7 linked regions of the Homo sapiens genome follow. The protein of the gene in region 4 purifies or fractionates together with the protein of the main gene of each other region. This does not show direct contact. Each region holds a gene or a part of one and is shown on either strand. Other genes may lie near its edges.

The links.
Region 1: the proteins of PLCD3 (region 4) and EIF3A purify together in Homo sapiens (affinity purification with mass spectrometry; one large-scale study listed by BioGRID and IntAct). This does not show direct contact.
Region 2: the proteins of PLCD3 (region 4) and NAF1 purify together in Homo sapiens (affinity purification with mass spectrometry; one large-scale study listed by BioGRID and IntAct). This does not show direct contact.
Region 3: the proteins of PLCD3 (region 4) and NOS1AP purify together in Homo sapiens (affinity purification with mass spectrometry; one large-scale study listed by BioGRID and IntAct). This does not show direct contact.
Region 5: the proteins of PLCD3 (region 4) and SPEN purify together in Homo sapiens (affinity purification with mass spectrometry; one large-scale study listed by BioGRID and IntAct). This does not show direct contact.
Region 6: the proteins of PLCD3 (region 4) and GEMIN2 purify together in Homo sapiens (affinity purification with mass spectrometry; one large-scale study listed by BioGRID and IntAct). This does not show direct contact.
Region 7: the proteins of PLCD3 (region 4) and CHD8 purify together in Homo sapiens (affinity purification with mass spectrometry; one large-scale study listed by BioGRID and IntAct). This does not show direct contact.

Annotation. Positions count from the first base shown.
Region 1 is NC_000010.11:119,035,547-119,039,544, forward strand, and holds part of EIF3A (eukaryotic translation initiation factor 3 subunit A), read right to left. Parts: intron 2,894-3,998; coding exon 2,692-2,893; intron 1,764-2,691; coding exon 1,573-1,763; intron 723-1,572; coding exon 493-722; 3' UTR 1-492. UniProt on the Homo sapiens protein: RNA-binding component of the eukaryotic translation initiation factor 3 (eIF-3) complex, which is required for several steps in the initiation of protein synthesis.
Region 2 is NC_000004.12:163,139,075-163,143,072, forward strand, and holds part of NAF1 (H/ACA ribonucleoprotein complex non-core subunit NAF1), read right to left. Parts: intron 1,310-3,998; coding exon 1,149-1,309; intron 1-1,148. UniProt on the Homo sapiens protein: RNA-binding protein required for the maturation of box H/ACA snoRNPs complex and ribosome biogenesis.
Region 3 is NC_000001.11:162,352,628-162,356,625, forward strand, and holds part of NOS1AP (carboxyl-terminal PDZ ligand of neuronal nitric oxide synthase protein), read left to right. Parts: intron 1-2,559; coding exon 2,560-2,726; intron 2,727-3,998. UniProt on the Homo sapiens protein: Adapter protein involved in neuronal nitric-oxide (NO) synthesis regulation via its association with nNOS/NOS1. The complex formed with NOS1 and synapsins is necessary for specific NO and synapsin functions at a presynaptic level.
Region 4 is NC_000017.11:45,115,428-45,119,425, forward strand, and holds part of PLCD3 (1-phosphatidylinositol 4,5-bisphosphate phosphodiesterase delta-3), read right to left. Parts: intron 3,617-3,998; coding exon 3,388-3,616; intron 3,066-3,387; coding exon 2,864-3,065; intron 2,712-2,863; coding exon 2,567-2,711; intron 1,358-2,566; coding exon 1,205-1,357; intron 160-1,204; coding exon of another isoform or gene 130-159; exon of another isoform or gene 82-129; intron 64-81; coding exon 1-63. UniProt on the Homo sapiens protein: Hydrolyzes the phosphatidylinositol 4,5-bisphosphate (PIP2) to generate 2 second messenger molecules diacylglycerol (DAG) and inositol 1,4,5-trisphosphate (IP3).
Region 5 is NC_000001.11:15,874,895-15,878,892, reverse strand, and holds part of SPEN (msx2-interacting protein), read right to left. Parts: intron 2,692-3,998; coding exon 2,215-2,691; intron 1-2,214. UniProt on the Homo sapiens protein: May serve as a nuclear matrix platform that organizes and integrates transcriptional responses. In osteoblasts, supports transcription activation: synergizes with RUNX2 to enhance FGFR2-mediated activation of the osteocalcin FGF-responsive element (OCFRE).
Region 6 is NC_000014.9:39,120,743-39,124,740, reverse strand, and holds part of GEMIN2 (gem-associated protein 2), read right to left. Parts: intron 2,312-3,998; coding exon 2,198-2,311; intron 1-2,197. UniProt on the Homo sapiens protein: The SMN complex catalyzes the assembly of small nuclear ribonucleoproteins (snRNPs), the building blocks of the spliceosome, and thereby plays an important role in the splicing of cellular pre-mRNAs.
Region 7 is NC_000014.9:21,389,963-21,393,960, forward strand, and holds part of CHD8 (chromodomain-helicase-DNA-binding protein 8), read right to left. Parts: coding exon 3,514-3,998; intron 3,293-3,513; coding exon 3,144-3,292; intron 2,848-3,143; coding exon 2,545-2,847; intron 2,292-2,544; exon of another isoform or gene 2,189-2,291; intron 1,985-2,188; coding exon 1,871-1,984; intron 1,845-1,870; exon of another isoform or gene 1,681-1,844; coding exon 1,501-1,680; exon of another isoform or gene 1,448-1,500; intron 1,102-1,447; coding exon 985-1,101; intron 1-984. UniProt on the Homo sapiens protein: ATP-dependent chromatin-remodeling factor, it slides nucleosomes along DNA; nucleosome sliding requires ATP. Acts as a transcription repressor by remodeling chromatin structure and recruiting histone H1 to target genes.

The sequences.
Region 1 (3,998 bases), on a different chromosome or scaffold from region 4:
TTATGGTAAATACCTCAAAATACCTAAAATAGGTACGTATCAACCACTTAAGGGTGTGAAAATTGTTTCAGATTCACTGCTTTAAAGGGTCTTCAAATATATTTTAACAGAACCTTACTTCATTCCAAATTATTATCAGATATTTCAAAATCAAAAAAAAAGTATCAGTTCTATACCAAGATAAAGGTGTTACTCAATACCTGAAGGGTCACATTTTAAATTTATTTTTTAGTTTTTCTTTTTTGTCAACAAATGATTGATGAAATAATGCAACACCCTTAAATTCCAGAAAATGGCATGGTTTTTCCAACCTCCTGTGGATATGGTGCATGATCAATCTATTATATAGGATTAATACAAGTTCATGCTTTTTGTGTTATGGTGAAACAACATTAAAGAATCCAATTTAGATTGGTTGAAGCACAAGTATAATAATCCTTGAATGTGATCAAACCTATTTAAGACACCAGTTTAAATCCATTATCTTGAGACTTAACGTCGTACTGTGGTCCATCCATCTTCATCAGTCTCATTTTTAGTACGACGGAGAGATTCCCTATCTTTCTCAGCTCTCCATGAGGCCTTCTCTTTTTCACCTTCTCTTTCTCGGTCTCGGTCTCTTTCTCGGTCTCTTGAAAGAGCTGGGGGAGGAACTCGACGAGGAGGGTCCCGCTCTTCCACCCGGTCATCTTTCCTGTCATCAGCACGTCTCCAAGAACTTACTAAAAAGTTTAATTAAAAAAAAAAAATTAAGTTAGTACTATATTCTATTGGCTCAAATTACTCAAAATTCCTGTACTAAAGATTGTTAAATACAGAAATCATTGTTAAATACAGAAATTCTGTTAAATTCTGTATTGTTAAATACAGAAATCATAATGAAAGCTCATACAATTTCTGACAATCTTTAACATACAAATGTACAGATAAAACTCAAAATCTGAAAACAGGCAGAAACCACTAGCCTGGGAAGGACTACAGTTAGTATAAACCCGTAAGACAAGGTGGCAAAAATCTGGCTGAATGAAAATTTTATAACTGAAAGGATTTTTGGCTCTTGAAGAATTTTAACAGCAAATTAACCATACAAAATACAGGAGTTTTTAAAGTTATGGCTATGAGAGAAAAATTCTCTCATAACAGGATGTCAAGACATATGGAAAATTAATTTTTAAAAACCAAGAGAAAAATGAGGATTTTAAAAATGAAAAATACATATATTTTAAAACAGAATAAACTTCTGTTACAATTTCAGAGAAAATGTTTCTACTTTGTGCTTAATCTGCCAGGAAGCTGCTTTTAAATAACAATTTTTTTCATTTTTATTAAGTAAACTTTATATATATTGCCTGCTATCCAATTTAGTCTACTACTGTACTTTGAATTTAGAGATAAGTGCACTTTACAACATGACCATTGAGTAACTGTATGAAAATCATGAATTCTAAATAGAATATCAACTCTCTTATTGTTGGCCTTCATACAAATTTATGATATAATTAAATAACCCAAATCCCCCCCCCCCCAGAAACGACAGTTCTCCAATACTTCAGTTGTATGTAACCTCTATACCTTCTTCACGTTCTGATCTGAGTGGAGGTCCTCTTCGGTCCCTGTCGTCTCTTAGATCTCGTCTTTCTCTTAGATCACGCCGGTCATCCCTCTCACGGCGACGGTCATCCCTATCCCTATCGTCCCGGCGACTTGAGTCTCTCCAGCTTGAAGATTCCTCAGCTGGTCCTCTTCTCCAGCCACCTTCATCCCTGTAGCCATTTACAATGACAGGTCAGGTTCTTACTGTTAGACCAAATGGATAATTATAAGTACATCCAGTCCAAGCTGGGGCTTAGAGTTTACAAATATAACAGACAGTTTAAACTCATAACCTGACCTTACCTGATGCCTGGGGCGTGGAGAACAAATGAGAACACCCAGATCTGTGCCGTCCCACTCGTTAGCCACTACCCATATGTGGTTACTTACATTTAAAGTAAAACGGAGATATTTCCTTAGGACCATCAACCATATATTCTAAGTGCTTGGCTGCCAAATGTGACTGCTGACTACCATACTGGCCAGCAGACACATTTTCTTCCTTGAAGAAAATTGCATCGAACACTGCTGGTCTACATTTGTCAGTACAAGGACACTTTGGCAGCGGGAACAAGCTAGAACTTCTACTACTAATAAAATCAAAGGGCTTTTGATAATTTAAGGGCAAGAAAACTGACTGCCCTAAACCACAGGGGTAAAAGCAACGGACTGACAAAGATGGCTGGACTGGTTCCAATGCCCAACGGGTCACACAGCCTTTGGACAGCCACGAAGTTTGGGCCTCCATTTTCTTACTTTAAGAGGGAATTTTTTTTTTTTTTTTTTTTTTTTTTGAGACGGAGTTTTGCTCTTGTTGCCCAGGCTGGAGTGCAATGGCGCTATCTCGGCTCACCACAACCTCTGCCTCCCGGGTTCAAGCAATTCTCCTGCCTCAGCCTCCTGAGTAGCTGGGATTACAGGCATGCGCCACCACGCCCGGCTAATTTTGTATTTTTTAGTAGAGATGGGGTTTCACTATGTTGGCCAGGCTGCTCTCGAACTCCTGAACTCAGGTGATCCGCCCTCCCAAAGTGCTGGGATTACAGGCATGAGCCACTGCGCCCGGCCTCTACAAATAATTTAATTAGAGCATCACACCTAGGTCTTCTGAAGCGATCCTCTCGATCCACATCTCTCTCTCTGTCCCTTTCTCTCTCAGGGTCCTTGTCATTCTCCTCCCGATCTTGATTATCTCTGTCCCTTTCTTTTTCTCTGTCCCATTCACGTTCTTCTGATGGCCTTGATTCTCGAGGTGGACCCCAGCTCTCCTCTCTGGCTTTTTCTTTCTCTCTCCATCCACCTGTTTTTTTGAAAAAGCAAAACATTTTTAAAATATTTTTAAAAGAAGAAACAGATTGGCAATCATGAATAGACGTTGGCATTAATTCATCATCATTCTAAATGCTAATTTAAGACACTGATTAAAAAAATACTAAAGCTGTGTACATCACTGCACAGACATCATTAACAGTATCTTAAACTTATATGAGAAACTTAAAATGGGCCGGGCATGGTGGCTCACACCTGTAATCCCAGCACTTTTGGAGACCGAGCCAGGTGGATCACTTAAGGTCAGGAATTCGAGACCAGCCTGGCCAACATGGTAATAACCCTGTTGCTACTAAAACTACAATTAGCCAGGTGTGGTGGTGCGCCTGTAGTCCTAGCTACTTGACTTAGGAGGCTGAGGCATGAGAACTGCTTGAACCTGGGAGGCAGAGGCTGCAGTGAGCCAAGATAGTGCCACTGTACTCCAGCCTGGATGACAGAATGAGACTGTCTCAAAAAACAAACAGGAAAAGAAAAAAAAATACCAAAAACCTTAAATGATCTGTGTTAAGTGTTCCATAAAACAAAAGTATCACTGAAAATTTTAGAATTTTTCCTATTGCACGCAGATTTCAGCATAGTATCTGTTCTGATGTTACACAGATCACTCATTTAAGCAGAAACTTCAAGAGTTTTCTCTGAGTCCCAATTTTGAGGTATTTATACCTTGCAACGTTTTCAAGCCCTTCATATCCAAAAAACAATCTTTCCTTTTATATTCCTGTCCTCCACCATTTGCCACCCATTATCTAGTCATTAATCATGAATAAATCCTTTAACCCTGCACAGTGGCTCACACTTATGCATGGAATATATGAATCTAGGAACATTTTATATACAGTACATATAGAGATGTAAATTTGCTGGTGACCTCACTGTTTAAAATGGCCTCCAAGTGTAGTGCTAAAATGCTGTCTAGTGGCCAGGCGTGGTGGCTCATGCCTGTAATCTCAGGAATTTGGGAGGCTGAGGAGGGTGGATCCCTGGAGCCCAGGAGTTCAAGACCAGCCTGGGCAACATGGCAAAACCACATCTCTACAAAAAAATACAAAAATTAGCTGGGCTTGGTGGTGTGC
Region 2 (3,998 bases), on a different chromosome or scaffold from region 4:
CAGGATCAAAATTTTCATCTCTGAAATAAATGAAATTTGGTGACTTGAGACTTGATTTAACATGTAAGTGGTATAAGTAATCTTCTTATGCCATGCAACTGGGGTTGGTACCTTTGACATAATACCAAAGTTACTCAGTGACCAAAGTTCCTTTGTTTTCCTGCAAAAACAACATCTATAAAAATGTATCGCCTAGGTTTTAAGTCTCCAATAAAAGAAGAGCTAGAACTAAAAGGAACTTCTGTGTCAAACTGAGTGCAAAGTCTTTCTGGATTTAACCTTCCCCCAGTCTTTGGCAGTCTTTTCTTCCACTCCCAATTTGAAAATATTTTTAGTGGCTCATATTCATTACATCATTCGAAAGCATTCAAGTTATTTTTATTAAAAAAAAATCTTAAATTCATATGCTATTTGCTGATATAAAAAATTAAATAACATAATTATAACAAGTTTAGCTGATACAAACAGCTCTACAACTAACAGCTGGCAACAGCTAACATTTGAAAAATATTCAACCAATGGGAGCACAAATATAAAAAAATATTGCGGTCACATGCCACAGAAATCACTTAGCATTATTGATAGACAAAATGGAGAGCACTGGTTTGTTGGTTAGGTCAACTCCATACACCGTAACTTTCTACACAATTTTTCAGGGACACGTGTTAGTTGTCTCTTCTACAAACTTAAAATTTATAAGCAAAATAAAGAGATAACACTCATTTTTTTTCTCTTGAAAACTATTTTAAAGTTTTATTGAAGAGCAAGGCCCCTAAATAGAATCCAAAGAGAATTTTACTTAACTGAAAAAAAAGTTATTAAGAAATGATAATAATATTAGTACTAATACTAAAATAGTAAGTACATTAAAGAATGTACATAATGGAAAAAACACTGAACTAGAATCAGAAAGTGTACATGGCTCAAATGTGCTCTTAATGGCTGATCATCTCATTTTTTACAAAAGATATGAATTCTACGTACAAAATCTGAAAATAAATTGTAGGCTTCAAAGATATTATTAGGAAGATAAATGAACTCTTTGCAAGACACACACAATATAACTGTAAGAAATTACATCACTGAGAATTATTCTTAAAATATAAACGTTAGGTAAGTGAAGAACAACATGCCGGTAAAGTACTTACTGTTTTAGTTTTTCTGTGAATATATATTGAGTGAAATCTTTCATTGATGGAGCAAAATACATAGTCTCCTTTATTTTAATACCTTTACTCTCAATGTGATCTGAAGAATTAAACCGTAACACATAAAATGGATGTGCAACAGGTCCAAATATCTCGAATATCTGTAATAGAAACATAAAGGCCTCTTTTAACATGTAAAATAACTATTTGAAAAGTCAGCAGTGTTTTCTTTTAAAAATCCCACTGATAATTGCCAGAACAAGGTAATTTTGTCAGTGTTAGGGCAATAAAATAATTTTTTAGTTATATTTATGTCATTTTTACATATTCAGTCTTCATATATTGATTAAAATGCACTCGCTCATTCCAGATTTCCCTTCTATGAATGTGAAACAATAGTAACAAGTTTGTTCCTCACCAAATTCAAATCATTTTGATGGTACCAACTCGATGCAAATTATGATTTTTTTAAATTATTGCTCATTTAACTTGTAAAGTACACAGAAAAGGATTATAATTGGTAACTTTTGAGAAAACTGTATACATTTGGAATCATCAGATGGGAAATATAAAAGCAAGCTTCTGACTTCAATAGGAGTTAAATCACTTTTGCTGTTTCCACAGTGTTAGGAATTTTGTAAAATTACAGACTTTTTCTAATTTAACAACTAATAAAGTAGAAGTTATTTATGTTTAAAAAACACAAAGATGGTGCAGCCTTTAACATTTAACTAAAAGAACTGCTTTTAGCAGAACCACATATTTTACTTCTGAAAACGTTTTAAGAATAATGAAAGGAAACTTCTTGGTTTCAAATTGTACTTTCTTCTCAAAATACGTGAATTAAAAAATATATTTTCTGGCTGGGCGCAGTGGCTCACGCCTGTAATCCCAGCACTTTAGGAGGTGAGGCGGGCGGATCACCTGAGGTCAGGGGTTCAAGACCAGCCTGGCCAACATAGTGAAACTCTGTCTCTACTAAAAATACAAAAATTAGCCGGGTGTGGTGGCAGGCACCTGTAATCCCAGCCACTCAGGGGCTGAGGCAAGAGAATCACTTCAACCCAGGAGGCAGAGGTTGCAGTGAACCGAGATTGTGCCATCGCACTACAGCCTGGGGGACAAAAGCGAGATAATATATGTATATTATAGAGATAAGACCATGATCAATGCCAGTATAGATTTTTCCAGTCTTTTTTCTATAATACGTTATTTTTTTCTTTAAGACCATACTGTAGTTTTGTATACTGCCCCCTTTTAAAAACCTAAAGTTGTTCCATGTTATATTCTTTGTAAGTATAATTTTAGCTATCATAAAACACCCCTTTACAGACTCAGGACAACTTACTTAACTTCTTTCTTATTGTAGGACATTTAGGCAGCTTCCAATTTGTTCAACATAATACATGATGCCATGATAAACATATATAAATCACTATACTTCAGACTTCCTAAAAATTGATTTGTAAGGAGTGGAGGTATTGAAGCTGAAAGTACGATAATTAACACTAAGGCATAAAAGTTTTAATGGAAATTACTAAATAGCTTTCTAAATAGCTTGGACCAATTTATACCAACTGCATTGAACATGGCTGTTTTATCACATCCTCAGTTCTTGATTTTTGATAGTAAATGCTCTTCACATTTTATGATTTCAGTACAGCACTGAATCTTTCATTAATTTTCATTAAGGCGTAAAACAGCTCACCTATCAGGGCACCACCATTCTGAAGATATGTGTACTCTAAAAAGAAGTAGTGACATTAAAAACTATTAAAATGCCAATGTATTATGAAATAACACTAATAGCATCACAAATTTAAAGCTTTAAAAAAGTGTAAAAGCAAAAAACTTTAAGAAAATAGCAAGACATCTGCTTTGAAAAGGTTTAGATAAATCCAGTAGACCTCGTCCAGTAAGAACTGTGAAGGACAGAAGAGGTGCACTCAGCACCACTCTTACTGGCCTACATGACATATATTATTGTAGTCTTACTTTCACTTAAAATTGTCTTAAAAACAATTCACAAGTTTAATTCTCTCACATATACACAAACCCAATTCTTCATTTGGTCAGAGATTTAAAAATATCTTTTAAGTTTCCTGTGTATCCATTAATACAAGGTAAAATAATCATCGTTTGCAACCTGGTACACAGACTGTTTCCCAGGGATTTGTTTCCTAGATAGCATGAATCCATTTCCTAAGTGTGAAAAACAATTTCAGTGGAAAAATTCCTTGCCAACTTCAGGTCTGTGCAGTATGGTTTGAACTAAAATATAAGTGACATTCAAAATTCTTGGACAAAAGCAAAGCATAGTATTTTAGTTGACTGTTCCTAGGTTCTGAAGTGTTTATGAGCCACAACTATAATGAAATCATTATAAAGTTTTAAGTAAAACAACATCACAGGCAGTAGATAACAGGAAGCCATACAATAGACAGTATGTGGCATGAGCCAATACTAATAGGTATGTTACAGGAAAACTTGACCAAGTTCACATAAGCAATTTGGCTAATCCAGAGTAGAAAAGAGGAATTTAACAATATTTTAAATAACCATTAGCCTCTGAGTGTAGAGTTTAGATTGACTAACACCTGAGAGCTAAACTGTAAAGAGCAACTTAAGACACAGCAAGGCTCAGGCCGGCCCACTTCTCCTCATACAGCTCCATAGGAGGCACCCATATCCCTTCTTGGTCATTCCACCCAACTTAGGGGATTCTGGAACTTCCATACTACCTGATTCAAGATAAAAGCAAAGGAAGTAATAGATTGTAAGGAGAGTATAAGAAACTGAATTTGGAAAAGTAGCACCTGAGACCTTTACTATGAGGTGGGCAAGCAGCTT
Region 3 (3,998 bases), on a different chromosome or scaffold from region 4:
CTGGTGAGAACTCTCTTCTGGTTCGCAAACAGCTGCCTTTTTGCTGTGTCCTCACAGGGTGGAAAGAGAGGGATCTCCTACATCGCTTCTTATAAGGGCATGAATCCCATCATGAGGACTGCATTCTCATGATCTAATTACCTCCCAAAAGCTCATCTCCAAGTGCTATTACATTGGGAGCTAAGGCTTCGACATATGAACACCAACATTCAGTCCATAACATACCCAACAGCCTAATAGGTATCCCTACTTGACTGTTACACAGACTCTTACAATGTCAACAGGTTTAAAACTGAACTCATCTTCTTACCTGCAATCCTGCTTCTCCTGGATTTTTCCTATAGGATGCCATTCTCCATTCAGTCACCTGAATCAGATATTTTAAGACTCATCCTGCACATATCCCCACCCCCGCCCCCACCACAGACAAGCAAACCCTGTGCTTTCTGCCCCCTGACGATCCTTCGAATCCATCTCTTCTCCATGTTATTGCCATTGTCTTCACTCAAGCCCTCATATTTTCCACCTAGAGTATCACTTTCTCTCATTGCTGCTGGATCTATCCTCCATACTATATCTAGAGTGAAATTTTGAAGGATGAAAATGTTTTGGTATTACTTGCTTTCAGTCCCTCAAGATAAAATGCTGACTCGTCCTGGTCAGGTCCCTCCCTACGGGACCACTTGCATTGCCTGACATGCCGTGGACTTCCTGCCTCTGTGCCTCTCTGCCCCTGCCCCCGCGCCCGGCCAAACCTGACAAATTTTCTGATTCCACCTGGGCTTCTGGCGAGGCCCTGTCCAAACCCTCTGTGTCTGGGGCTTCTTAGTTCTTGTTATTAGGATCTCCAGGGATGGGAAGTAGATAAGCAGCCTTCTCCTGCAGCCTGTTCTCCTGTTTTGCTACCCTGTCACTACATTACTTACTTTGTCAGTATTTATGGAACACTTTCTCTGTGCCAGAGAAACATTTTTAGGAAACATGAATGAGACACAGCCTGGCCTCAAGTCTGTAAGGGAAGACTGATGGCCAGGCACATCCAATATCATGTGCTAAGTGCACAGAACACTGCAGTAGCCCAGCTTCTCCTGATCACTGATAGAAATTTCACCCTGCTTTTTCCTGTACAGGCATGGAGAACCAAACGCTTAGTTCCCAGCACCACCCACCTACCGACCCTCCATCTCTCAGGCTAAGCACCCAGCCATCAAGACGGTCACTTCCAGGTGCAGGCTGTGGTAGAAAGCAGGCTGCTCCCTGTGCTCCCCGCCTACTGGCTGACCAAGGGGCAGAAGAGCTTCCCCTTCCCTGCCCCCACTAGCTGCAGTCAGAACCATCTTTTCTGTTAAACGCCTTTGCAGCCCTCCACAGGACTGTCTCCTCAGCTCCTGGAGTAGCCAGGAAGAAAACCAAGCCCACTGTTTACTTTCTAAATGCCAGGCTTGTTTCCCTTGATGACTTGTGTAGGTTTGCATAGGAAAACTTCTTAGAACAATTTGTTCTACAAGGCAAGCACTCAAATGGCCAAGGCCTGGTTGCCTGGGCTAGCTTCAGCACTGGGGCATCAGCTCTGTGTCTCCTGCTTTACATCCACCTGTTCCATTTTATAATTGGTGCGTGGTCTCTGAAAACTCATGAGAAATCTTATTTAAAGACGGCAGTAATTAACCTAATTGCAAATATAGAAAATGAAAATATTTCCTATGAAATGCCCAGGAGTTGTCAGATGTTTTTACAGAATCCCAGAAATAGGATCAAGGAAGGAAGATAAGTAGGAAATAGCAGGGCTTTCATACATTGGTATTAAGCAGTATGCTGTGCCTGTGGTTAAATATTAAGTAAAGACATGGCCATTGTCTTCAGTGGAAAGGAAGAAATGTGGGAAGTAGAAAAATTAGATAAGGAAGCATGGAAAAGCAGCCACCCCATCTCTCTCCTCCTCCCCGTGCCACTTCCTGCAGGCGTCTTCCTGGCTTCTGCTGTTGGTGAGAGGATCAGGCTCTGAGGGCTGGGAGATTGATACTGTGTTAAAATGCAGCCTCACATCTCCCTGCCTTATTCCTCAGTCATGGAACCCTACCTGTCCATCTAACTGAGCTTCTAATTCTGTAGTTAAAGAAACATGGCCCAGAGAGTGAGGGGATTTGCTTCTTGTCCAGCAGTTTATTGGAGGCCCAACCTCCTCATTTCTGGACCCCCGGGCCAGGGCCCTTTCCCTTGACTGCTTCCGTTCCTGAGCTGCGATGACATGGAGATGATCAGCATCCCCTTCTTCCAGTGTACCTTGTCAATATATTCCTGTGAACCTGGCAAAACTTTTACATCCAGGCTTGAGGAAGTATTGCCTTTTTTTCTGGACTTTGAAAAGATACTAAGATGAGAACATCTTACTGGGCTGGAAATGCACTTTAACGTACTTGAGTGAAAAGATGTGTGAAAATGTTACAAAGCCAGTGGCATCCCTAGGCTCAACATGCCTGAAAGCTAAAGTATTAGGAAAGGAGGACTTTGTTCTCGGTGTTTTCATTCTCTTCCCTCCCTCCCCTGTTGTTCCTGCAGGCCGCCAGCTCACTGGAGCCGAGAGGGCCTCCACGGCCACTGCAGAGGAGACTGACATCGATGCGGTGGAGGTCCCACTTCCAGGGAATGATGTCCTGGAATTCAGCCGAGGTGTGACTGATCTAGATGCTGTAGGGAAGGAAGGAGGCTCTCACACAGGCTCCAAGGTAGGCAAGAGATGGCCCATCTGTGTGATCTGCACACGTGTGCCCTCAGGTCATCAGTCACTTCCTAGCCCCTGCCAGCTCAGCTTCCGAGTGAGGCACTCCATGGCACAGTGGCGGTGCCAGAGCGCACTTCATTGCCTTTCAGAAGGTCTGACTTCCAGAGGGTCTGAACACTAGATGCTGCTGCAGGCCAGGATGCTGTGGAGCTGATTCCTGACACACATCGCCCTCCCCAAATCCCACCAATATTTGGTCTCCTACTCCCTGGCACCCTCTTCCCTTAACAGCATCTCATCTTTGCACAGTATTTTGCAAGGCTCACTCTGGCACACACACACACAGACTCCCCTGTGACTTAGCTAGTAGAGCAAAGTCAGTTTGGGCCCGCTCTGCCTGCAGTAGCGGTGGTATACCGTTGGTAATTCCTGTGGATAGCACTTTGGAGTCTGGAAGTTGGCCCACTGGATGTCAGAAACTGAGAGACCACCTTAGTCTTCATCAGCTCTAACCTAACATCATATAGGTGAGATGACTGTGGCATCTGGGGGTTCCTAATGTGATCCAATTAAGAAACTAAGAACTTGAGATCAAATTCCAACCTGAAGCCAAAGCTAATTAAAAATGTTTTAAACCCAGAAGCAAAATTACTGACCAATAGCTCTACCCTTAGATTCCCAGGCGGTTTATATCAGGGCACCTCTCTCTCTTTAACATTCATATCTTATCTCACATGGAGGTTTGGAGGGCAGTTCAGTTCTAAACTAGCTGCCTGACGTTTCCTTTGGAACCAGTTTATCCTCTACAAGTGGAAACAGCCCTGTGTCACTGGGGGCCTTCCTTGTGTATGTCTGAAGAAGTCCCCACAGCAGAACTGCCAGAAACAAAATGTCTTTCCCTGCCATGGAATTCTATGAATCGTAGAAGCCATCTTGGTAAAAATGTCCACAGGAGAGGGAGACAGAAGGAAAGGAGGGAAGGACACAGGAACTTCTTTCATCTAAGAGGATCTCTCCAGATCATTATATATTTTAGGATCCAAACTTCTTTGCCGATGGTTCTCACCAGAGGCAGTGGAGGGCAGGAGGTAGCCCCCTCACATGGCCCCTTCCTCCAGGACCCAGCTCCACGCTTCTCCCAACAAGGGAGAAGGAACATCTCAGACCCTGGAGGAGGGAGCCCTAAGGACACAGCAGAGTAGAGGATTGAAGCTGGGTCCTTCCTGTTATCATGGTAGGGTGGATGGAAGCTACGTTTTCCTAAAATAGATTCTTC
Region 4 (3,998 bases):
GCCATCCTCGCTCCGAGCAGCGGGCAACTTCTTTCCCTTCACCAGGACCCGGCCCTTCAGCTGCTGTGGGGGCCAACGTGGAGGATGAAGGGTTAGGCCTTCTCGCCCCTGTGGCAGCCAGTCAGTCAGTTATTCAACCACCGCCTTGTGAGGGGCTGGCTAGGGGTGGGAGGCAGGAAAGGAGACACAGAGATGAGCGATGTTTCTAATAGGAAAGAGTGGAGAATGGCCCGGGAGGCCATCAGGAAGGGATGCTTAATAAGGTCCCTCAACATCAGAATATACACAGCAGCCACTACAATGCACGCGACAGCTCAGGACTGAAAGGAAAGGGACCCTCTTCAAAGAAGATCTTACGTGGAAGAAGTGAGGCTACAACCTGGAATCACATGTCCTTTTTTGGTACCATTTAAAAGAGAAGACAGTACACATATGTACACAGGTAATGTGTGTGGGGAAATTCTTGAAGGACATGCAAGAAAGTTAGAGATGGTTACTTCTTGTGAAAGAGGACAGGTCAGTGGAGGGAGGGGAGCACTGCTCATCGCGTCCCTTAGTACAGCTCAGTTTTCTTTTACCATACGGGTGTGATTTTCACAGTAATAACAAAAATCACATCTCACACACACACGAGGGTGAGTCAACCCTGCCTGCATGTTGGGGATTGGAAGTAGGAGGAGAGTTTTCTCAAGGAGCCCGACAGGATAAATGTCTGGAGAGAGCCGAGGACGCGCTCTGGTGTCTGGGGGAGAGCAGGAGGCCGCCTCAGGCCCGAGAGTTGGGGAAGTGGATAAGGCCACAGGAAGAGGCGGCTGAAGTTGAGCTGAATTCTAAGCAGGTGACGCTTGGCAAGTGTGGATGGCCGAGAAGGGACTTCCAGGTGGAGAAAGTGTCAAGCGGGGCCTTGCAGGTGGGAATGGCAGAGCCTGCAGGACTCTACGGGCAGGGACACAGGGCCAGCAGGGCAAAGCCAGGTTACAGAAGAGGGTGTGTGTGTGGGGGGGTCTAGTCAAGAATGGAGAGCCAGAGGGCAGCAGAAGGACAAGACCAGGGGATGGCAGACCTCAGATGAACAGAGGAACAGAGAAAAGTTAAGGCAGCAAGAGGTGAGGGGTCCTGAGCCACAGAGGTGGCACGAGCAGTGCGGGGAGGCGGACTCCCACCAGACCTCCCTCCACCCAGGCTAGGGGCTGGGGGGCGTCACCTCTGGGGATGGCAGCTCCTCGGGATTTGGGGAGTCCAGCGCCTGTGTCACCAGCATGTCCCCCAGGATGGTGCAGAGGTGGCGGGCCATGGCAGCCTGCTGCTCCAGCCCGCAGTGGTTCTCCAGGGATAGGATGACAGGGTAAGGGGACAGCTGTGGGGGGAAGGGCAGCAGCTCAGAGCCACTCCCCTCCCTCTGCCAGTATCTCCCAACATCTGGCTCCCAGACCCTTCAGGACAGGCAGGCAAAGGCAGGGCTCTGGAGAACCCAGGGAAGCAGCAGACTGTCCAGGAGGCTGAGGGCGGCTGCAGGAATTATTTTTTTTTTCTTTGAGATGGAGTGTTGCTCTGTCGCCCATGCTGGAGTATAGTGGTGCAATCTCAGCTCACTACAATTCCATCTCCCGGGTTCAAGCGATTCTCCCTGCCTCAGCCTCCTAAGTAGCTGGGATTACAGGCGCCCGCCACCACACCCGGCTAATTTTTGTATTTTTAATAGAGATGAGGTTTCACCATGTTGGCCAGGCTGGTCTCAAACTCCTGACCTCAGGTGATCTGCCCACCTCAGCCTCCCAAAGTGCTGGGATTACAGGTGAGAGCCACCACGCCTGGCCGATTTTTTGTTGTTGTTGTCTATGCTTTGGTCTCTCTCCATCACCCAGGCTGAAGTGCAGTGGCACAGTCAGTCTCCCTGTGTTCTCCAGTCCTGGGCTCAAGTGATCCCCCCACCTCAGCCTCCTGAGTAACTCAGCCTACAGGCACATGCCCCCACACTCAGCTAATTTTTATTTTTGTTGAGACAGGATGTAGCTATTTGCTCAGGCTGGTCTGGAATTCCTGGCCTCAAGTGATCCTCGCGTCAGCCTCCCAGAGTGCTGGGAATACGGGTGTGAGCCACCGCACCTGGTCCCATAAATGCTTTTTACATGTGAATGACATTGACTATGTCAGTGATGTGAAAACTCTCCTCCCATCATTTGCTGATGGGAAGATTTGCACACTGTGACCAAAGTTGCAGTGTTTATGCAGATGCCACTGGTGAGCTTCTCTTACAGCTTATTTATTCTTTGGAAGTCATGATTAAAATGTCCTTCCCTCCCCCAAAGGTTTTCTTCTGGAAACTCTGTGATTTTTAGGACATTTCCCAAATATGAGAGAGGGAACATATTTCCCAAATATGAGGGTGGCATCTCATTCAGCTTTATGCCACCCCATTGGCCACTTATCCCAGCAGCACTTGGTGAATGAATGATTCTCTGGGCAAGGGTTTCCTCTGGAAGGACGGAGGGCAGCTGGCATGTGAGTGCGGACGGAGGTCATTGGGAAGGCTGTGGGGCTGGGGCTGGGCATCCCAGGGGCTCACCGTGAAGGCATGGTCGCGCACGGCTTGGACCACGTCCCGGAAGAGAATCTTGGAGGTGAGGGTATGGCCATGATAGATGACGGGCTCCCCTCCTGGCCCCTCCCAGCAGTCCAGCTCCACGCAGCGGCATCCCTGGGCAAAGGCCCTGTGTGTGGACAGATGGGTGGACGGGCAAGGTGTTGCCAGAGTGCCACAGAGCAGGGCAGCAGGCAGGCTGGGCCAGGAAGGCCCCAGGAAGCCAGCCCATGTCTCTCCCCAGGTGGGGCTCCCGGAAACATTCACCCCCTGCTACAGTACCTAACATAGGCCTCGGTGCTGCTGGGCCCCCCGATCTGGGAGTCAGTCAGATAGGTGTTGTGGGAGGAAGAGATGAAGTAGTGGGCAAGGGGCTGGTTCATGTCCTGGAACACACACGTGTGGGTGTTGTCCAAGGCAGCCCCCTCCGGCGACAACAGGTACATCATGAAGCCATCCAGTGTCATCAGCTCATGCTGCTTGGCTGCAGGGGTGGCAGGAGAGGGCATCAGGCCACATAGGGATCCCCCATGTCCAGCTTCCAATGCCCCCAAGGCCCACTCAGCTTAGGAATAATGACTAGACAATCTACTGACTAGACTCCATGTAAGTCATGCCACTTAACCTTCGACCAGACCCTGGGAGGAAGACAAACTGTTGTGCCATTTTACACATGTGGAAGCTGAGTCTGGAGGAGGTGAGGTAACCTGCCCGAGATGATGCCCGCGCCAGCCCGCAGCAGAACCCGCTTAGCTGGGAACACAGCCCTTTCAGGTGCCACGACCTGGCCGTGCCACCCCCCCCACCTGTCTCGTTGAGCTCATAGGTCTGAATGAGCTGCTGGGCGCGGGCCAGTGTGGCGCCCTCCTCGCCCTGGTCCTCCAGGAACTCCAGCAGCTCAGGGGCACTCAGCACGCGGTCCTCGCCCGAGTACTGATGGAAGATCTCCTCCAGCTCCGGCCGCTTCAGCAGCCGCCGCAGGAACTCCTCGATCTCAGCCCCCTCTAGACGGTCGTTGTTGGAGTGGTCACACTCCTGGGGAGCAGCAGGAGAAGCTCAGAGGAGGCAGACACTCCAGGAAACCTGGCCCCTTTGACCCATCTGTCATCTACCACATCTGAGAAGGCAATGGTCCCCATTTCACAGGTGGAAAAACAGAGTAAGACTTGTGACTCTAGCTCACACAGCTGGTAAATTACAGGGCAGGATTTTTTGGTTTGTTTTTTAGGTTTGTTTGTTTGTTTGGTCTTGCTCTGTTACCCAGGCTGGAGCGCAGTGGCATGATCATAGCTCACTGCAGCTTCCAACGCGTGATCTCAAGTGATCCTCCCACCTCAGCCTTCCAAATAGCTGGACAGCTGGGACCACTGGTGTGCACCACTGCACCTGGCTAATTTTTGTATTTTTTGTAGAGATG
Region 5 (3,998 bases), on a different chromosome or scaffold from region 4:
GATTACAGGCATGTGCCACCATGCCTGGCTAATTTTTGTATTTTTAGTAGAGACAGGGTTTCACCATGTTGGCCAGGCTGGTCTCGAACTCCTTGCCTCAGGTGATCCACCTGCCTCAGCCTCCCAAAGTGCTGGGATTACAGGCGTGAGTGAGCCACACGCCCAGTGCCTCAACACCTTTTCAATAAGTTTTGATCCAGTGGAATGCAGATGCAGCTTTTTAATGAGGTAGGTTTATGGAAAATGACTAAAACTTGAGCATTTTAGACAATTCTATGCAGAAAAAAAAGTGGAACAAGATTTTATAATTAGTTTATAGGGTTCAAATGAATTTCATCAATCATTTATCTAGACAGCACACCAAATAAAATCAAAAGAAGTTAAGAGTTTTCATCCATGTCACACGGCTTGAAAGCTGGGCATAGAACGTAACTTTCATGACTTTCTAAACTAGGTGCTTGTTTCATTTTAATATGCAAATCTTCCAGAATGTTTGAATTATATCTAGATAGGCAGAGGGATAAACAAAATGTTTTCATGTATTATTTTGAATAAGAAAATTCAGGAAGCCTAAAAACAGACATTCAACTACATGACCATTTGCTTAAATTAATTTTAAGCAGGCAAAAGAAAAGTAATCTGAGCCTTTTAATCAGGTCAAAGAATTTGACTGTAAATTTTAAATATATACCACCTAAATTGAAAAGCAGGACATGTGGGATTAACAAATTGAATAGCAGCATTTTTTTTAACATATACTAGGTATCAAAGTAAGCATTTTACATTAAGTGTTCATTTTAATTTTCACAATAACTTTATTAAGGTCCTTATTAAAAATGAGAAAGCTTGGCCAGGCGCAGTAGCTCACACTGGTAATCCCAACACTCTGGGAGGCCAAGGCAGGTGAATCACCTGAGGTCAGGAGTTAGAGACCAGCCTGGCCAACACGGTAAAACCCCGTTTCTACTAAAAATACAAAAATTGGCCTGGCATGGTGATGGGTGCCTGTAATCTCAGCTACATGGGAAGCTGAGGCAGAAGACTCACTTGAACCCAGGAGGTGGAGGGTGCTGTGAGCCAAGATCACGCCATTGCACTCCAGCCTAGGTGACAAGAGCGAGACTCCATCTCAAAAAAAAAAAAAAAAAAAAAAAGGGAAAGCTGAGACCTGAAGAACATAAATAACTTATCCTAGATTACTTAAAGGATAATCTATACCACATACCCAGATCTGTGATTTCAAAATCCATATAACTAGGTTTGAAGCTAAGTTTCTTATTAAGATTACCCTCAACTTACTATTTTCGCTTTTCAAATAAAACTTTTTGGCTGGGCACTCTGGCTCATGCCTGTAATCCCAGCAATTTGGGAGGATGAGGTGGGCAAATCACTTGAGGTCAGGAGTTCAAGAACAGCCTGGCCAACATGGCAAAACCTCATCTTTACTAAATACAAAATTAGCCAGGCGTGGTTGCGCACGTTTGTAATCCCAGCTACTTGGGAGGCTGAGGCAGGAGGACTGCTGGAACCCAGAAGGCAGAGGTTGCCGTGAGCCAAGGCTACACCACTGCACTCCAGCCTTGGTGACACAGTGAGACTGTCTTTAAAATATATATATATATTTGTAGAAAGAAATTCTCAACTAGTGAGATCAGTTTACAGAACAGTAAAGTTACAACCTGCATTCAAAGGAAGCTTTTCTACTTGAGTTTATAAATTGGCTACCACCCTGATGTTAAAATTAGCTAAAATTTGTTCATAAGTTGATCTAGTCATTGATAATAAATGTGTCAACAATATTATATTTCACCAATACATATTTAACCAAACAGCTTTTACAAATCTTCAATCAAAATAATAGAAATAAATTGGTATTATACACCTACAAAATTAAAAATGTTAAAGAGATACCATATTTTCAGTGTCACAAGATTTGCCTTGCACAGCTAGAGTCACCACCTCCCTTCCACTTTGATCATTTAATTTTAATACTGTGCATCTGGAGGATGAAACAGAACTTTGCAAATCATCACTTAACTTCGAGTACTTAGAACAGTTAATTCAATGGCCACATGCCAGTTTCTTTACTGATTACATACATATATGATCCAAGATTACTTTAAAAAATAATACTATGCTGAAACCATTCCCACTGATTGTTGAGAATTTGTTTAAAGCTAGCTCATCTGTTATAACAAAAGGCTGTTAACCTACCTGTCACTGCTGGTACTACTGCTGCTGCTGATTGAATCACTACTGGAGGATCTACTTCTAGAGCCGCTGCCGCTAGGGGACCTTGTGGGTCTAGATGCTTGGCTAGCCAGTCTCTGAGGAGACTGATTTCTAGACTGGGATGAATGTGGTGACCGACTCCTGCTGTGCTGGTAATTCCGCTCTGGCCTTCTGCCTCGTACCTCCCGGGTAATATCATCCCTGTAGATATCCCTGTGTACCACACTGGGCAGTGTAAACTGCTCGCGAGCCCTAGGTTCATATCGGGGGTCATGAGCATCAAAGCGATTTGGACTTCGACTCCGAGAAGCGTAATAGAGCCCATGTTGTAAAGTCCGCTCTCGAGGATCTCTATAGTAATCCTGATCGTAATGTCTTGTCCGATCAAATCCTCCCGTCCCCCGTTCATGGTGTCCATAGGCACTATGTTCATAAGCACGCTCCCTGTTATCTGAAGCCCTGCATTTAGGAGGGGGAAAAATATTTAATCAGAAAGGAGCAAGCAAAACTAAAAGCAAGTCATGCAAACATTCACTTCAGCATTGTCTTTGTCTTTGCAACTGGTCATTTTCTAAACAGCATTAACCTACTTAATAAGCAAACGCTAACAAGCTTAACATTTTACTTGACTCCAAAAATTATTTTCACAGCTGAGCAATCATTGTTTTCATTGTATATTGGGCTTTCATGACTAGTGTTCTGCAGCTCACTTGCTTACTTTATTAGAGATTTTCTGACTTGCATACATAAATATACAATCTCCTTTTCATGTTAACGGAACAAGAGACTATTTTAATAATATGAAAGTTTTTACACTTTCATCTGATTAAAGTATATACCAAATTTTATTTACTCACAAATTTCTTTTAGGCCACATTTCCATGCTATGTTTTAACTTAGACATGAAAGCCCTGCTGCAGCGCATGTCTCAACAATAGGAAGGACTTTCAAGAAGTCCAGAAAAAATTTTCTAAGTTTAACTTTTTTTCATTAAGTTTTGACTGCTTGGATAGTTATAAAAAATTACTGGACTACATAAACTAGACTACATAGACTGCACAGCGGTACCCAATTACATTTAATAATAAAAATAGAATCTCAAAAAAAAACCACTTCAAGTATCAAAATATTGGGTTACCACATGCTACTCTATGTGAATTTAAATAAAAATAAAAATTATTTACTCCTGTGCTATCAAATTCCAAATGACTTTAAAAATGCCTATTCCATGATTCAATTTCTTAATGTATAAACTCAATGGTTGTAGGAAATATGTTCTTTTGGCTTTTAGCTATACTCAAATTGCCTGTGATGAAATTAGGTAACATTAGGAACTATAAGATATTCTAAGGTCGCTATTAGCAAAATAGCTTAACTTAAACAATCATTTAGTAGGATGTGAATACCTGTCAACCTAAAAAGTACAAAACACGTTGCATGTACGATTACACACATGCAATTATGTGTTAATATTAAAAACTAGTTATAATCCTATAAAGAAATCGTAAGTTCTCTACTTTTGTAGAGAACTAGAACTCAGCTCCTGAGTTCCTAAAAGACCATTTCACTGGAGTTTCTCTTCAACCCATCTCTGGATCTATCTTCTATCAAAAGGGATTAAGGAATCATGAAACATAAAGAATTAGAATCTCTCCAATGAAGAATATCTGGCAAAATCTTATAACAATTAATACCAGATCCCCAGTACATGCTTAGATTCCAGGTCTCTCCACTAATATTCTTTTCACCCATCATTTCACTTAGTA
Region 6 (3,998 bases), on a different chromosome or scaffold from region 4:
AGTGTAGTGGCGCGATCTTGGCTCACTGCAACCTCTGCTTCCTGGGCTCAGGTGATGCTCCCACCTCAGCCTCACGAGTAGCTAGGACCACAGGTGCATGTCAACACGCCCAGCTAATTTTTTTGTATTTTTGGTAGAGATGAGGTTTTGCCATGTTGCCCAGGTTGGTCTGGAACTCCTGAGCTCAAGTGATCTACCTGCCAGAGCCTCCCAAAGTGCTGTGATTACAGGCATGAGCCACCTCACCTGGTCTGAATTTGTAAATTTTTAAATAAAGTATGATTTTAGTAAGTAAAATGTTAAAGACTAAAAATTTTTTACATGATAGTACTTGAAAAAACTAACTTATTAAGTATATCCAATAAAACTGTAACATTGATAAGATGACATTAATATGTTGTATACACCATTTCAAAATCTTCAGCTAAAGCTAATATTTTCAAGAATTAAGGACACTTGAATTAGAATGACATTTTTAAAACCTAATTTGATTCAATTTTTAAAAGTCTACTTTGGAGTCTGAGGCTGTGATTGCTAATTATGAAAATACCACTGATTTGTGAGAAACTTAAGAGGATATACATTAAACGCTTACTTCCTTAAGGGTTTTTTTTAACATGGTGTATTTTACTTGTATGTATTCTCTGAAAATAAGCTAAATAAGTAAGTTTTAATTCTTTATAAATTAAAAACCATTTTTGGCTAGCCATGATAGCTCATGCCTATAATCCCAGCAGGAGGATTGCCTGAGCCCAGGAGTTTCAGGCCAACCTTGCAACATGGTGAAAACTTCTCTCTACAAAAAAATTTTTTTAAAAAATTAAAAAACTTATCGCTACAAAAAATTTAAAAATTAGCTGGGTGTGGTGGTGGGTGCCTGCTGCCCCTGGTATGTTGAAGGCTGACGTGGGAGGATTGCTTGAGCCCAGGAGGTTGAAGCTGTAATGAGCTATGAGTGCACTACTGCACTCCAGCCTGGATGACGGAAGAAGACCCTGTCTCAAAAAAAAAAAAAAAAAAAAAAAAAAAAAATATATATATATATATATATATAGCTATTTTTGAAATGTAGCATATGTTAAGGATATCATCCAAAAGATCAATTGGTTATATAGAAAGAGTACCAAATTAACTTCCCTAAGATTTGAGTCTATTTATACTCCTGTACCACGTCTAAGAGTGCTTGTTTCCCCAGCTCTTGTCAATATGGTGTATCAAACTTTCTTGGCCAATATGTTACCTGAAAAATAGCACCTTGGCATAGTTATGTTATACTTCTATTACAAGTGATTTTTGGCATCTTGTCATATAAGAATAATTTTATTTCCTTTCTGTGAGGTATCTATATCCTTTGGCTATTTTTTCTTGGGCAGGGGAGGGGTGATTCTTGGTCTTTTTATTGATTCTTGGGGCTTTTTACATTTTTAGGAAAAATTAGTTTTAAATGTGAAAAACACAATGTGGCACCATATAGCAAATAATAAATACCTGTTGAACTGAAAAGAACTACATGCTATAGGGAGTAAGCGCTAATGCAGAGGCATGCACTGGATTCTCAAGGAACACCTGCAAACTTGGGGGCAGGTAAATCCTGAAGGACAAGGAGTTGTCTACATAACTTATGATTACAGCCACATGAATTTTAAAGATATCCTCAACATTTCATCTTTAGAATATGTGATTTATTTTTTACAGGCCCATGAAGTGATAGATGTGATTATGCATTTTAAAGCATCTAATTGTGTCGATTTCCATTTTTTCCCTGGCTACTCATAACACTGTTTGCCTGATGCCTCATCATTTAAAAAAACTATGAATCTTATCCAACTCATAAAATGATTACCAAGCCAAACATAAGGGATATGAAGCCAAACTAAAAAAAGTCACAGTAAATTGTTTCAGAAACTAAGCTGTTTTGTTAGGTTGAAGAGCTAATAAACTAAGTCTGGGTTGGCAAACATTTTCTATCAAGAGTCAGACAGCAAATATTTTAGGCTTTGCAGGCCACATAAAGTCTCAGCCACATATTATTTGTTTCTTTTTTACTCTTTCAAAACCTAAAAACAATCCTTAGCTCATGGATATAAAAAAGGCCATGAACTGGACTTGGCCCAGGGTAGAGTTTGCTGACCCCTTATATTAAGTGGTGCACCAAAATTAAAATGCTTTTTGTTCTGTTTATCCACACAGCCCTTACTTGTACATAATCTATTCCAGGACTTTCATTTGTGGCTGGTCCAACAGCCCCGTCAGCACATAACTTTTCACCCAGACAAAATTTCTTCCAGCCTTCTTCATCTTCAGATTTTGGCTAAAAGAAAAAAAAAAAAACTGATTTATTCCTGTGTATTAATTTTTACACTGAACAGTAAAAAAAAAGAAGTTAAGTCCTTCCATATTCCCATTACCGCAACCCAAAGATACGGAGCCAGTTATGGGGAGAATCTCTGCCCCCAAATTTGTATGTTAAAACCTTAAACTCCAGTACCTCAGAATGTGACTGTATTTGGAGACAGGGCCTTTAAAGAAGTGATTAATTTAAATTGAGGCCATTAGGGTGAGCCGTAATCCAATCTTACTAGTGTCCTTATAAGAGGAAATTTGGATTCACAAAGAGACACCAGGGACTCCCACACACAGAGGAAAGACCACGTGAGAAAACAGGGAGAAGGTGGCCCTATGCAAGCCAAGGAGAAAAGCCTCAGAAGAGACCAACCTTAGGCCGGGTGCGGTGGTTCACGCCTGTAATCCCAGCACTTTGGGAGGCCGAGGCAGGCGATCACATGAAGTCAGGAGTTCAAGACCAGCCTGGCCAACATGGCAAAACCCCACCTCTACTAAAAATACAAAAAAAAAAAAAATTAGCCGGATGTGGTGGTGCACACCTGTAATCCCAGCTACCCAGAGGCTGAGGCAGGAGAATCACTCGAGCCTGGGAGGCGGAGGCTGCAGTGAGCAGAGATTGCGTCATTGCACTCTAGCCTGGGCAACAAGAGCGAAACTCTGCCTCAAAAAACAAACAAACAAACAAAAAGAGACCAACCTTGCTGCCACCTTGTTCTTTGACTTTCAGCCTTCAAGACTGAGAAAATAAATACATTTCTGTTGTTTAATCCACCTAGTCTGTTATGGCAGCCCTGACAAACATAGTGCCTAAGTGGCTACACAATATGTGGGACATGTTGTTTTTCCTTATTATTACATTTTTTGAGACAGGGTCTTGCTCTGTCGCCCAAGTTGGAGTGCAGAGGTGTGATTACAGTTCATTGCAGCCTGAATCTCGGGCTCAAATAATTCTGCCACCTCAGCCTCTTGAGTAGCTGGGACTACAGGCATGTGCCACCATGCCTGATAATTTTTAAATTTTTTTTGTAGAGATAGTTGTCTCACTATGTTGCCCAGGCTGGTCTCAAACTCCTGGCCTCAAGCAATTCTTCTGCTTTGGCTTCCCAAAGTGCTGGGATTACAAGTGTGAGCCACTGTGCCCAGCCAAGATGTGTTTAGTTTGGACAAGACTTTAGTGGACACTGACAGACAATGGTGTGTCCAAAAGAGGATGATAAAGACAGAAATAAGTATGGGGGAAAAAATGCACCAAGAACACTTAATAGAATGAAGGATATTTATCCCATGTAAAGAGACATGATTACATATTTCACATATTTGAAGGGTTGTCCAGTCAAAGAAGAAACAGATCTACTCATGCTGCCAGACAGAAAAAGCAGGACGCAGGACTATTTGGGAGAAGCATTCAGCTCAATATAACCTCCTTAACAAAATAACCTTTGTTTGTACATATCACCTTGTATATTACTTTGCATAGGTGCATTTTCCCCCTAGGGATAAGTAGCTTTCATTAAATCCTTAGGATGAATCACCTGAGGTCAGGAGTTCGAGACTAGCCTGGAAATATGGTGAAACCCCGTCTCTACTAAAAATACAAAAATTAGCTGGGTGTGGTGGCAGGCACCTGTAATCCCAGCTACTTGGGAGGCTGA
Region 7 (3,998 bases), on a different chromosome or scaffold from region 4:
GGTGGCTGAAGCCTGTAATCCCAGTACTTCAGAAGGCCAAGGCGGGTGGATTACTTGAGGCCAGGAGTTCCAGAGCAGCTTGGCCAACGTGGTGAAACCTCGTCCCTACTAAAAATACAAAGAATTAGCCTGGCCTGGTGGTGCACGCCTGCAATCCCAGCTACTTGAGAGGCTGGGCAGGAGAATGGCTTGAACCAGGGGAGGGAGAAGTTGCAGTGAGCTGAGATGGTGCCACTGCACTCCAGCTTGGGTGACAGAGTGAGACCATGTCTCAAAAAAACAGAAAACTTAAGAAATTGCTTTAAAACCCTCACTTTTCAGGATGTAAAAACTGAAGAGGTTAAAGGATTTGTCCAAAATCCCTTAGTTATTCAATAGAAGAACAGAGTAAGATCTGAATGTTCTCTCTAACCCATCTTACTAATTCTTAAATTTTCATATGCATCAAGTACTAAAGTTAGTTTTTAGAATGTTATGCTCTCCTAGAGATGAAGATACCACAGGACTGCAAAAATACTGATAAAAATACTCTGGGCCAGGTGCAGTGTGGCTCAGGCCTGTAATCCCAACACTTTGGGAGGCCGAGGCGGGTGGATCACGAGGTCAGGAGTTCAAGACCGGCCTGGCCAAGATGGTGAAACCCAATCTTTACTAAAAATACAAAAATTAGCCAGGCGCGGTGGCAGGTGCCTGTAATCCCAGCTACTCAGGAGGCTGATGCACGAGAATTGCTTGAACCCGGCGGGCGGAGGTTGCAGTAGGCCAAGATTGCGCCACTGCACGACAGCAGAGTGAGACTCCGTCTCAAAAAAAAAAAAAAAACCCCAGAAAACTCCGGTTTCCTTATTGGTGAACTCAAGATAATTCTTCACACAAACAAACATAGGAAAAAAGATAAATAACATTAGTCACAATCATCATTGAAAGACTTGTAATCTCACATCTAGTGTGGGAATAGAGTGGTAATGCTGCAATTTCTCTCACCTTTTTCCCATTTCTAGAGTTAGCTGTCTGTACTGGTTCCATTCCCAAACAGTTCAATTCTGCCTTATTATTTTTTTTACATCTTTGCCACTTCTGTTTTCTGCGATCCTCCATATACTGCAATAGAAAAAATCAGTTATCCTAGAGGAATAGAAATCTTCTCTGGAGTAATTATTAAAGTACTAGTGTCTTTTGTTTGATAATAAACACTTATTACATAGATAAAGGATTCATCCTAGTGGAAAACTGCCATTAAGTGGGATCTCTCCAAAAAATATTAGGTGGTTTATATAATAGTTCAATAGTAAATATTTGCCTAGCACTTAAAGTACTTCAACATTATTTTATTTTGGGCATCACAACAATTGTGAGGTTGGAAGACTGGGTATTATTAATTATTACCCTTATCTTGCAGATACAGAAACGATGATACAGTATGTCATGCTTTCTCTTTCTCATGCAGCTTAAATACCAAAGGAATGACTTTAAATCTTGCTGGATGGGACTGCCACTCACCGCTAGAAATCGGGGATCAACAGCAAACTCTGGATGACCCTGTAACCACATCTCCAGTTCAGCCCGGCGAGGGGCATCCTCACCCACCAGCAAAGTACCATCCACCTTATTGATGACAGGGATCCGGGTCTCCAGGTCCACATCAAGGTGATTAGGCTCTTCCATGCACTCCACCTCCAGCTGCAAACCCAGAATCCACCCCCATGAGCACATACTCTTCTTTGGGGGAGGGAGGGAGGGGGAGCAGGGCCAATGGTAGTCATGAAATGACTCTAGTATTTTCCATTCCCCCAGTCCCACTGCCTTCATCAATTATTGGGAATAAAAAGACAATCTAATCGTCAGGTTAAAGACTTTCTCTACCACTCACCTCTACTAGCTTCTTTCTGTTCCCCTTCTTCTTATGAAACAGTGGATGTCCATCTCCCATTACTCCATTCGCCATCAACTTGTGCTTCTGGAATGTTAACTTCAATCCTTCCTCCTAGGAAGACAACCCACCCACCCAAGACATCATATGGTACATGTTTTTCAAAGTAAAGATTAAGCTTTGAGGGATGTGGGCTATAGGTCATCCTCTTGCCCAATGATGGTGAGAAGGAAGGCCATCTGACTAAAGGGTAAAATTAGAAATACAAGAAAACATACACACTTTTTCCTTAGAAAGATTTCACTTCTTCACCTAGTGCCCCTCAGCATTTACGAGAAAGAGTTTATTTCAACAACACCCAAGTTAGGGTAAAACTCCCTACCTGGTGTCTCCGTATTAGCATGGCAACTCATCACAGGGGCAAAATCCTGCTATTCCTAAGCATACTAATTTAAGAAACTTTTGTTGAATATTAATAGGATTAATAATCAATAGGGTTCAATAAGGAAAACAACCAGGAAAAATGATTCTTCCTAAATGGATCTTTGTAAGCTCTGTTTTCTCATTTTTAAAATTAGCTAACCAAATGAGTTTAGTAACCTATTAGTAAAATTAGTTACAGCAAGGATTCCAGCCTCCTTCCCCACTTCCCAATGCCCAAATGCTGAGCTTACATCTTTGATTTGAACTGTAAACTCCTTTTCATCCATGCCTCGGCGAAGTTTGGTGAACTGGGCTGCCGCTGTGCTGACTGCAGATGCTTCCTCCTCTGCCATGGAAGCTGCACTACTACTTCGTGGTGTGGGGACTGGAGAGTCACCATATTCTCCAGGAGTCAATGAGGGACTGTCTAGCAAGTGGTTGCCTGGCCCCAAAATTCCTCCTGTTACCATTTCCTGGCTCCTACGGCTAGAAGGCCACTTCCCTGAGAGTACAGCCTGGCAGACGAGGTCAATACGGTTTATCAGGACACGATCCTGAATGGGGAAAGAAAGAAATACCATTTTAAGAGTCTGAGTACTAGCTGTGTGATCCTGTGATACTCAATAGTGCCATCACTACCAGGATGGGTAAAAATCATAAGGCAGAAAAGAGGAAGTTAATACTATTAAGATTCCTAAGTCAACTGGGAAGTTTCCTGGAAAAAAAAAAAAAAACTTGCAGCAATAAACACAATTTTAAAAATCCAGAACCATATGTTCCTTTTTCCCCGGATATACTGTTACACTGTATTTCTGGACTCTACATGTCCAGGGATGAGGCTGTTTGTTACCTTGGGCCACTCAGAGGCTCTTTGTCTTTCCTGCAGTAGCAGAAGCTCAGGGGTCATTTGTTCTCCATCTTCATTTGGGAATCCATCTTGGGACATAGTGAGGGACAGGAGACTCTCTTCATCATAGAGCTTTGAGCGGGACTGGTCAGCTGGTAAGAGAGCCCATAGAATGTGTGAGAAAAGATGGAAGAATAATGTCATATGGTAATGGTATTATATGGGCTTTGAATAAAGGCCCAAAGAATGGCACTCTTTTGACATTTTATCAAATCAAAATCCAAATCTCTCTCAAGAGGATGCATTTAGAAAAGGGAAAGAGAAGAGAGGGGGAAATAGGGAAGGGGGCCAACAGCCTGTCACATGCACTCACTTAGCTTCTCTTCCTTCTCATCCTCACTCTCATCAGTGCTGGAGCTGGAGCTGGATGAGGATGAGGAAGAAGAAGAAGATGGTGACAGCTTGCTCAAGTCCAGCTCAGAGTCCGAATCATCCTCATCCTCCAGTTTGACTGGTGGAACACTCCGGGAAACCAGAGGGGTAGTATCAGAGGGGGATACTCGCATCTCATAGTCTTGTGGGGTTGGTCGGCTCCTGGCCACCACCTCGTGCTCTAGCTTTAAAGTCAGACTCTCCAGACTGGGGACCTGGGTAGCTGTCTCCTCGGGTGACTTTTCAACAGGAGCATCTGGGCGCAGGGGCAGTGGTGAGGCAGTGCGTGAGGTATACTGCTGGTGCAGCAGTGGAGTAGAGCAGCGTGACAAGGATGGAGCTGGTGCTCCTGCTTGATGGTTCTGCATATAATTCATACGGGCAGCCAGAAAAGAGAAGTCTGGGTCCTGCATGATGTTGCAGTCT